2 linked regions of the Homo sapiens genome follow. The protein of the gene in region 1 purifies or fractionates together with the protein of each later gene. This does not show direct contact. Each region holds a gene or a part of one and is shown on either strand. Other genes may lie near its edges.

Region 1 (3,755 bases):
ATGAATCGGAGGGTCGCACCATGTAAGGCAAGGAGGCGGGGAGGGACCGCAGCAACGTGGGGGCGCGCAATCCGTGGGGGACCGACCATACCTGGGGATGCGAAGGGGCTTCCACCATTCAGAGCTCCGCCAGGCCATGTGGAGGGCAGAGCGTGGGAAAGGCTATCCAGCAATGTCACAGGGTGGGAGAGCCCCTGGGTGCCTGGGAAGGAGAATGTGTGGCAGAAATGGCAGGACTTGCTGGGCAGCCTCTAGGATGGAGGCCACAGGATGGCAGGTGACAGGGAGTCTCGGAGCCAATCCTTCAGGATGCCTCTTTCCCCCAGAGAGCTGCCCTCAGGCCGGAGTCGCGCCACATCCTTTTCATCAGCTGGGGAGGTTCCGAAGCCTAGGTAAGAGGTGGTGCTCAGGTGGCTGGTGGGTCAGCCCCAGGGACTCTCCTGCAGCTTGGGGCCAGCCCTCAACAGGGAGGGGTGGGCAGTCCACAGGGGACAGGGATGCAGCCCCAGCCAAGGGTCTGCAATGAGTAATTTGAAATCTGCAGGAAGGAGGGGCTTCTCCACTGCACCTTCCTTTTGGGAAGGGGAGTGTAGGAGTCACTTGGTCCAGGCCCTTGGCCTGGCTGTGTGGCTGTGGGGCAGCTGACTTCCCTGCTGGGCCTCCGTGGCTCCAGCTGTTAACTGGGATTGAAATTGTCTTTAAGAAGAAGACGACCTCCCACCCATTCCCTGCAGGGAGTGATACTGCCTCTGAGATGCTTTGGGCAGCTTCCAGAGTCACAGTGACTCACTCCTGCAGGTCACCCTGACTGCTTGAGTGTACTTGGGACTCAGCATGCCTGTAGAGAGGCACGAGTTTGCTCTGACTGTCTCCCAAGTTTACCGTGACATATTTTGTCAGCTGACCAAGGAGAACTGGCTTCTCTCTCTTTTGGGGGCTTTTCCATAACAGTGTCTAGGGGGGCTCTGAAGCGTGGGCACACCCTGCTGGCCTCTGGAGGAACTGCTCCTGACAGAGAAAGGGAACTGAAATTCAGGCTCGCTCCTTGCTCCAAACAGCCGGCAGGCGGCTTCTCAGGGGGTGGTAGAGGCAGTGGCGGCCTCTGGAAGGGAGGGCCTCAAGTTTACAGCCAGCACACAGGGCTACCTTTAGTAACTACGGTCTCTCTGTCACCCCTCGATGACTCAGCGCCCACTACCTGCCAGGTCCCATGCTGGGCACAGAGGATGCAGGAGTGGTCAAGACAAAGGCCCTGTCTTTGGGCAACTGACGTCCCAGCAGGGGACTCAGGCAGGACCCTAGTAAACAGTTCAATACAAAAGCGAGAACCCCCAAGTGTGCCTGCAACATGGCCACCTCTGGGAGGCTGTCCCCTGTTAGAGATGGAGATTGTGGGGTTGGAGACTACCGGAGGCTCTGTGTTGCCCTTGACCCAAACCCCGATGCTCCAGCCCACATCCCCTCCACTGCAGGACAGAAGGGTCTACCCTGACCCCTTGACTCCTCCCCTAACTCTGAGGAGGACTCTTTGCAGGGGCCCCTAACTCCTGCCCGGAGGCCAGAACTTCCAGGCTGACCACCCCTGGCTGTCAGCTCCCTGCCCGCTCGTCTTGGCTGCCCCCTGAGTTATCTGAGCCCCCTCAGTTGCTGCCAAGCAGGAGGTCCCAAGCACCCAGAGCCTAATGTTTCCCAGCCGCTGAACAAGGCCTGGCCGCGCCCTCTCGTCTCAAACTTCCACCAAGACTTGGGGTGTGGGCATGCAAGGAGCTGGAGCAAAGAGGGCCCCGAGGGACAGGAAGGGGGACAGCTGGCTTCGGCTGGCTGCTGCCTGGGCTCTCCCCTTCAAGCCCTCATGCACCTTCCTGGTGGAGGCTGTTGAGGGAGATCAGGTCAGACCCCGGGCTGAGGGGAAGCCTCTGGCTCTGACTGGGGAGCCTCCAGCTTGCACTGGTTCAGCCCCAAGCACAGAGGATGGGAGGGCTGTCAGCTGAGAGCAGTGCTCCGTCGGCGCAGCACTGGGAACTGGCTGGCCAAGGAGAAGCTGGACTTTGGAGAGGCCATCAAGCTGCCTTCCTAGGCACCTGCCATGAGGAGTCACCTGGGGCACTTTTCCTGGGGGAGCATGAGGGAAATAGGCAGAGCATAGCGGGCACCTGATCAGGGGCACAGGGGGCTGGCACCCCTCGTTTCTGCTGTACTGGGACACCTGGAGCACTTGCCAGCCAATCTTATTTGCTATCGTTAAGGGCAGGATAAAGTAGGATGACCTCAGCCCTCCAGCAAGCCTCGCTTCACTCCACCCCTTCTTCTCTTCGGCAGGCCTCCGAGCACAAGGGCTCCCACTGGCTACATCATCCGGTAAGTGACCGCAGGACTCTGCCGGCCTTCCTGTGCCCACTCACGCCAAGCCCTGACTTCTTACCCCTCCAGTCCCTCCAGGGAGCTCACCGGCATCTCCTGGGCTCTCTTTCAGGGGAGTGTTCACCAAGCCCATAGACAGCTCTTCCCAGCCCCAGCAGCAGTTCCCCAAGGCCAACGGGACTCCAAAAAGGTATGTCCATGGGGTGTTGGCCAGTCGGCCAGTGGGGAGGTGTGAGGGCCTGGTCTGGGCTCCTGGCAGAGACAGTGCTCTGCCTATCAGGACTGTGGGGCCTTGGAGGTGCCAGCTTTCATCCTGGGTAGGGCAGGACCCTGGAGAGCAGGGTGGGGTGACCAGAGGAGATGGGCTGGGGTGGGACTGGCAGTCCCAAGTGGATGTGTGGGTCTCTGGGAGGTCCTGGGCCACTAACAGTGTCCTTGTCCTGGGGTCAGTCCTGACTAGGCCTGGCTAATGGGACAGAGAGGTGCAGGAGTTTGGGAGGGGCTGGGTGTAGAGTCCCCCTAGCCTGGCAGTGGGCACCCTTGACTTGACTTGCTGATGGCATTGAGAAGGCTGAAGTTGCATGCAATTCAAGCACCTTGGCATCAGGCATTGCCTGGGACTCCGTCAGACTGGAAAGGCCAAGGGGACCCGGAAACAGGAAGCAAAGACACAGGCAAGAGCCCGCTGGGCTGTTCCCTGAAGCTCGGTGGGGTTTGCCTACACAGCTGCTCTGAGTGGCGCAGTTCCGGGTGTCTGTCAGGGCCAAAAGCAAAGAGGAAAGGCTCCCAGGCAGCTCCTGGTCCACCTCTCATGTGTCCACTGGGCTGTGTGGCCAAATCTGGAGGCAGGAGGGAGCCTGCAGGTAGACACATGGAACCTTCTCCTCTCTAGTGCTGCCAGTCTGGTGAGAACAGCTAACGCTGGTCCTCCCCGCCCCTCCTCCTCTGGCTACAAGATGACCACTGAGGATTACAAGAAGCTGTGAGTATGCAACGCCAGGCTCAGCGTGGTTCCCTCCTCCAAGGAACAAGTCCAAACTCTGGGTCCACTGAAGGCAGCTGACTACTTGCCACCGAGCACAGCCCGGGAAGTCCCGCCTGCCTGACACTCCCTGCCAGTTGCAGCTGTGGCCTGGAGCCCACCAGAGGGTAACAAGCCCCAGAAAACTGGATGGCTGTGCACATTGCACGTCTGATCCGAGGCAGAGCGGAGACCGCAGGAAGCTTGTAGGAGGGGCCCCACGGATCTGGGGAAAGGGTCATGGGTCGTGAGGCTGCTGCTGGCTGGCTGTGCTTCCTGGGCTTGGCCCTGCACCCGGCCGAGCCTCAGGTGCTCTGCCTGGCTGCACTGGGCTGGGGGCCTGGGGATCCTCAGGGTGCTGCTGTCAGTCTGA
Region 2 (3,862 bases), on another chromosome or scaffold:
GGACTCCCCCCACAACAGCAGTCGAAAGTATGGGCCTCTAGAACTTATGACCAACTGGCTTCCAGTTGGGATTCCCATAACTTCCTCTTTGGGTTCAATTATTAATAATTTGCTGGAGTGGTTCACAGAACTCAGAAAAACACATTTACCAGTTTATTATAAAGGATGTTGCAAAGGATACAGATGAAGAGACGGGTTGGGTGAGGTATGGGGAAAGGGTCATGGAGTGTCCACACCCTCCCTGGGGACCACCCTCCAGGAGCCTCCACAAGTGTAGCTGTGCAGAAGCTCTCTGAACCCAGTACTCCTGGGTTTTTATGGAGGCTTCATGACATCGCCATTCCTTCCCCCAGGATATACAGTGGGACTGTGTCTGGGGAGGGTCTTAAGACCCACAGTCAGAAAGGTAGACGCTTGTAATCCTAGCACTTTAGGAGGCTGAGGCAGGAGACTTGCTTGAGGCCTGGAGTTCAGTATCAGCATGGGCAACATGGCAAGACCTCATCTCTATAAAAAAAGAAAAGGTTGCAGTGGGCCAGGTGCGGTGGCTCACGCCTCTAATTCCAGCATTTTGGGAGGCTGAGGCGGGCAGATCACTTGAGGCCAGGAGTTGGAGACCAGCCTGGCCAACATGGTGAAACCCCGTCTCTACTAAAAATACAAAAATTATCTGGGCATGGTGCTGCGCACCTGTAATCACAGCTATTCGGAAGGCTGAGGTGGGAGAATCTGCAAGGGAAGTCTAAAGGATTTCATTTCCACTGTCACTCAGGCATCTTCTCTTCCTCACCTAAGCCCTGCTGTGTTGGAGGAGTCCCAGAGGCAGGGTTTTAGTGAGACCCTCACGGCCACTCCCCACTCCTGACCCCATAAGCCCTGTGAGCCTACACAGAGACGGTGGCTCCTGAGCCGTAGTGGCAGAGAATAACACCTTGTCGGGTGGCCCATGCAGCAGGTTATAAACAAATGTTCGATGACTGACGTTCTCCTGTTTTGCAGAAAATTATAGTTTTGGTATGACAAGGGGAAATTACATTAAACAAGCAATTTAGTGAACTTTTTTTTTTTTTTTGAGGAATGTTTCACACTTGGAACTGAAGTCATTTTCTTTTATTCTAGTGACTTTTTGAATGAGTATGAAAAAGGAAGGACTCCCAATCCTGACATAGTTTGCAACAAGCACATCAAATTTAGTTGCTTTTTTCATTATGCTGTGGATAATCTTGGTAAGTAATTTGGGTTTAAAACATTTTTTTTTTTAAAGACAGGGTCTCGCTCTGTCACCCAGGCTGGATTGCAGTGGTGCGATCATGACTCACTGCAGCCTCGACCTCCTGGGCTCAAGAGATTCTCCCACCCCAGGCTCCTGAGTAGCTTGGACCACAGGCATGCCACCATGGTGGCTAATTTTTTGTGGAGATGGTGTCACAACTGTATTGTCCAGGCTGGTCTCAGATTTCTGGCCTTAAGCAGTCCTCCTGCCTCGGCCTTCCAAAGTGCTGAGATTACAAGCGTGAGCCCCTGTGCCTAGCCTGTTTCTTCTTGTGGAACCTCCTGATACTGAATTGCTTGCTTAGACCACCTCTTGATGTCTGTGGCTATGCTTTATGAATTTTAGGTTCTTCTTCCTGTCCCCTGCCATTGGGGTCACCATAATGAGTTTCTGAAGTTCTGGCTCAGGCTTCTTGGTTTGCTCTGTCCCACTGCAGCTCACCCTGTTGTGTGTTGCTACGAGATACCATTGTAAGCCAGGGGCCCAGTAGTGTCGGCACTTTCAGCAATGATGTAGATTAGGCTTGCAGATTCAATATGTCAGCAACCTAAAGCTGAGTTGATGATAATGATGAAAGTTAGTTTGTGGAGTTAGGAATAAACAAATGCCTACAAAAACAAAAAATCAAAAAGAAAAATCTTAAATTTCAACATTGGGCTAACACCAAAAACATGAAACTTAATAGAGATAAATGCAAAGTTTGCTAACTAGGTTCAGTAATTCTCCTAGGACAAGATTGGAAAGACCTAGCTTGGTTGCCATTGAATCTTCTGCCATTGGTTGCAGAAAATCTGGGGGATTTAGGTGCCCCCAGGCTGACTGAGCCAGTAGTGTGATGTCTTTTGTCAGAGCCAGCACAGACGGAGCTCACCTTGATGATCATAGAATGTCTAGGAAGGGGTGATGCGTCCCCTGTGGTCCGTCCTGGTTAGACCGTATTAGTTATTCAGGAAAAGAGTGATAGACTGATAGAATGTGAATTGATTTTTATTTTCAGGGTATCTGGAAATATGTCCTCCCTGAACTGTTGAAATTACTTTGGGTCGTAGTGGCAGTGGTCAAGCGTGTGAGTTAGGATGACATTCTTTGTGTGACACCAGCAGACAGTTAGGACTGGCAGGAGAAAGAGTTCCCTGAGGTGGAGGCGCAGGCAGCTGTTCAGGAAGGGAAGGCTTGCCTTTGGAGAGCATTAAGCTGTCACGAAAGCTTTTTAGGGAGCCCCTAGGTGGCTGGCTGTCAGGCACGCTGTGGAAGGAACTTCTGCAGTGAATGTTTCCACACCTGGAAGAAAGGCATGAACCGTGCAGCACAGGATGAGAGGACATGACGCCCAGACTTCTGAACTCACCGCGCTTCTCAGAGGCATCCTGCGCTTTTTCTAGTATAAGTGCTGTTCTTTGAGGACACAGATGTAAAGTGGATTGTTTTCTCTAGGAGAACCTCAGTCAAGATGAGATTATGTGTCTCTAAAGTGCCTTTTTCAGGTCGTTAATATGCAGCAGCTAATTCTTGCTGTGTCTTCTGTTTACATGGAGCTAGTGTGGCTGGTCCAGGATGGCTGTGTCTTCTGTTTACACTGAGCTAGTGTGGTTGGTCCAGGATGGAATCCATTTTGCTGCACCTTTCATAAAAGTCTCTTGCAATACTAAATATCTGTAATTTTTTCTTTTTTTGAGATGGAGTCTCACTCTGTCTCCCAGGCTGGAGTGCAGTGGTGTGATCTCGGCTCACTGCAACCTCCACCTCCTGAGTTCAAGCAATTCTCCTGCCTCAGCCTCCCAAGTAGCTGGGATTACAGGTGCCCACCAACATGTCTAGCTAATTTTTGTACTTTTTTTGTAGAGACGGGGTTTCATCATGTTGGCCAGGCTGGTCTCAAACTCCTGACCTCAAGTGATCCACCCACATCGGCCTCCTAAAAGTGCTGGGATGACAGGCGTGAGCCGCTGCGCCTGGCCCAAATATCTGGAATTTTTACACAATGAAAAGGTTCTGGATTCATATGCACCTTGTTAGGCTCTTTGGCTTTGTGTAATATGAAAAGAAGAAACAGTGTGCTGGATGATTCTTCACTCTGATGAAAATAATACATATTTATTACAGAAAATTTAAAAGAGGAGAAACGACACCTATAATTTCACTCTCAGAATCAAAGGAATAGACCTGAGATTTTTCTTCAACTGTTTCTGTACAGTAAAAACCGTGGAATCATGGTGTTACATCCTCGCCCTGCTGAACAGTGCCGGGCATTTTCCCGTGTTAGTAAACATTCTCTGTAAGGACCCCCATTGTTACGGCAGTGCATTGTCATTCACTTCACATTCTCCCAGTGTTGAACATTTTGGTTCTTTTTTTTTTTTTTTTCCTCCTGAGACAGCATCTTGCTCTGTTGCCCAGACTAGAGTGCTGTGGTGCAGTCTTGGCTTCCTGCAGCCTCAACCTCCCAGGTTGAAGCAATCCTCCCACCTCAGCCTCCCAAGTGGCTGGGACTACAGGTGTGCCCCACCACGCCTGGCTAATTTTTGTATTTTTTGTAAAGGTGGGATTTCACCATGTTGCCCAGGCTGGTCTTGAACTCCTGAGCACAAG

Evidence for each region.
Region 2: the proteins of ZNF185 (region 1) and TRMU purify together in Homo sapiens (affinity purification with mass spectrometry; one large-scale study listed by BioGRID and IntAct). This does not show direct contact.

Annotation. Positions count from the first base shown.
Region 1 is NC_000023.11:152,914,812-152,918,566, forward strand, and holds part of ZNF185 (zinc finger protein 185), read left to right. Parts: coding exon 1-22; intron 23-326; coding exon 327-392; intron 393-2,319; coding exon 2,320-2,358; intron 2,359-2,473; coding exon 2,474-2,551; intron 2,552-3,031; exon of another isoform or gene 3,032-3,253; coding exon 3,254-3,343; intron 3,344-3,755. UniProt on the Homo sapiens protein: May be involved in the regulation of cellular proliferation and/or differentiation.
Region 2 is NC_000022.11:46,342,143-46,346,004, forward strand, and holds part of TRMU (mitochondrial tRNA-specific 2-thiouridylase 1), read left to right. Parts: intron 1-1,117; exon of another isoform or gene 1,118-1,119; coding exon 1,120-1,226; intron 1,227-3,862. UniProt on the Homo sapiens protein: Catalyzes the 2-thiolation of uridine at the wobble position (U34) of mitochondrial tRNA(Lys), tRNA(Glu) and tRNA(Gln).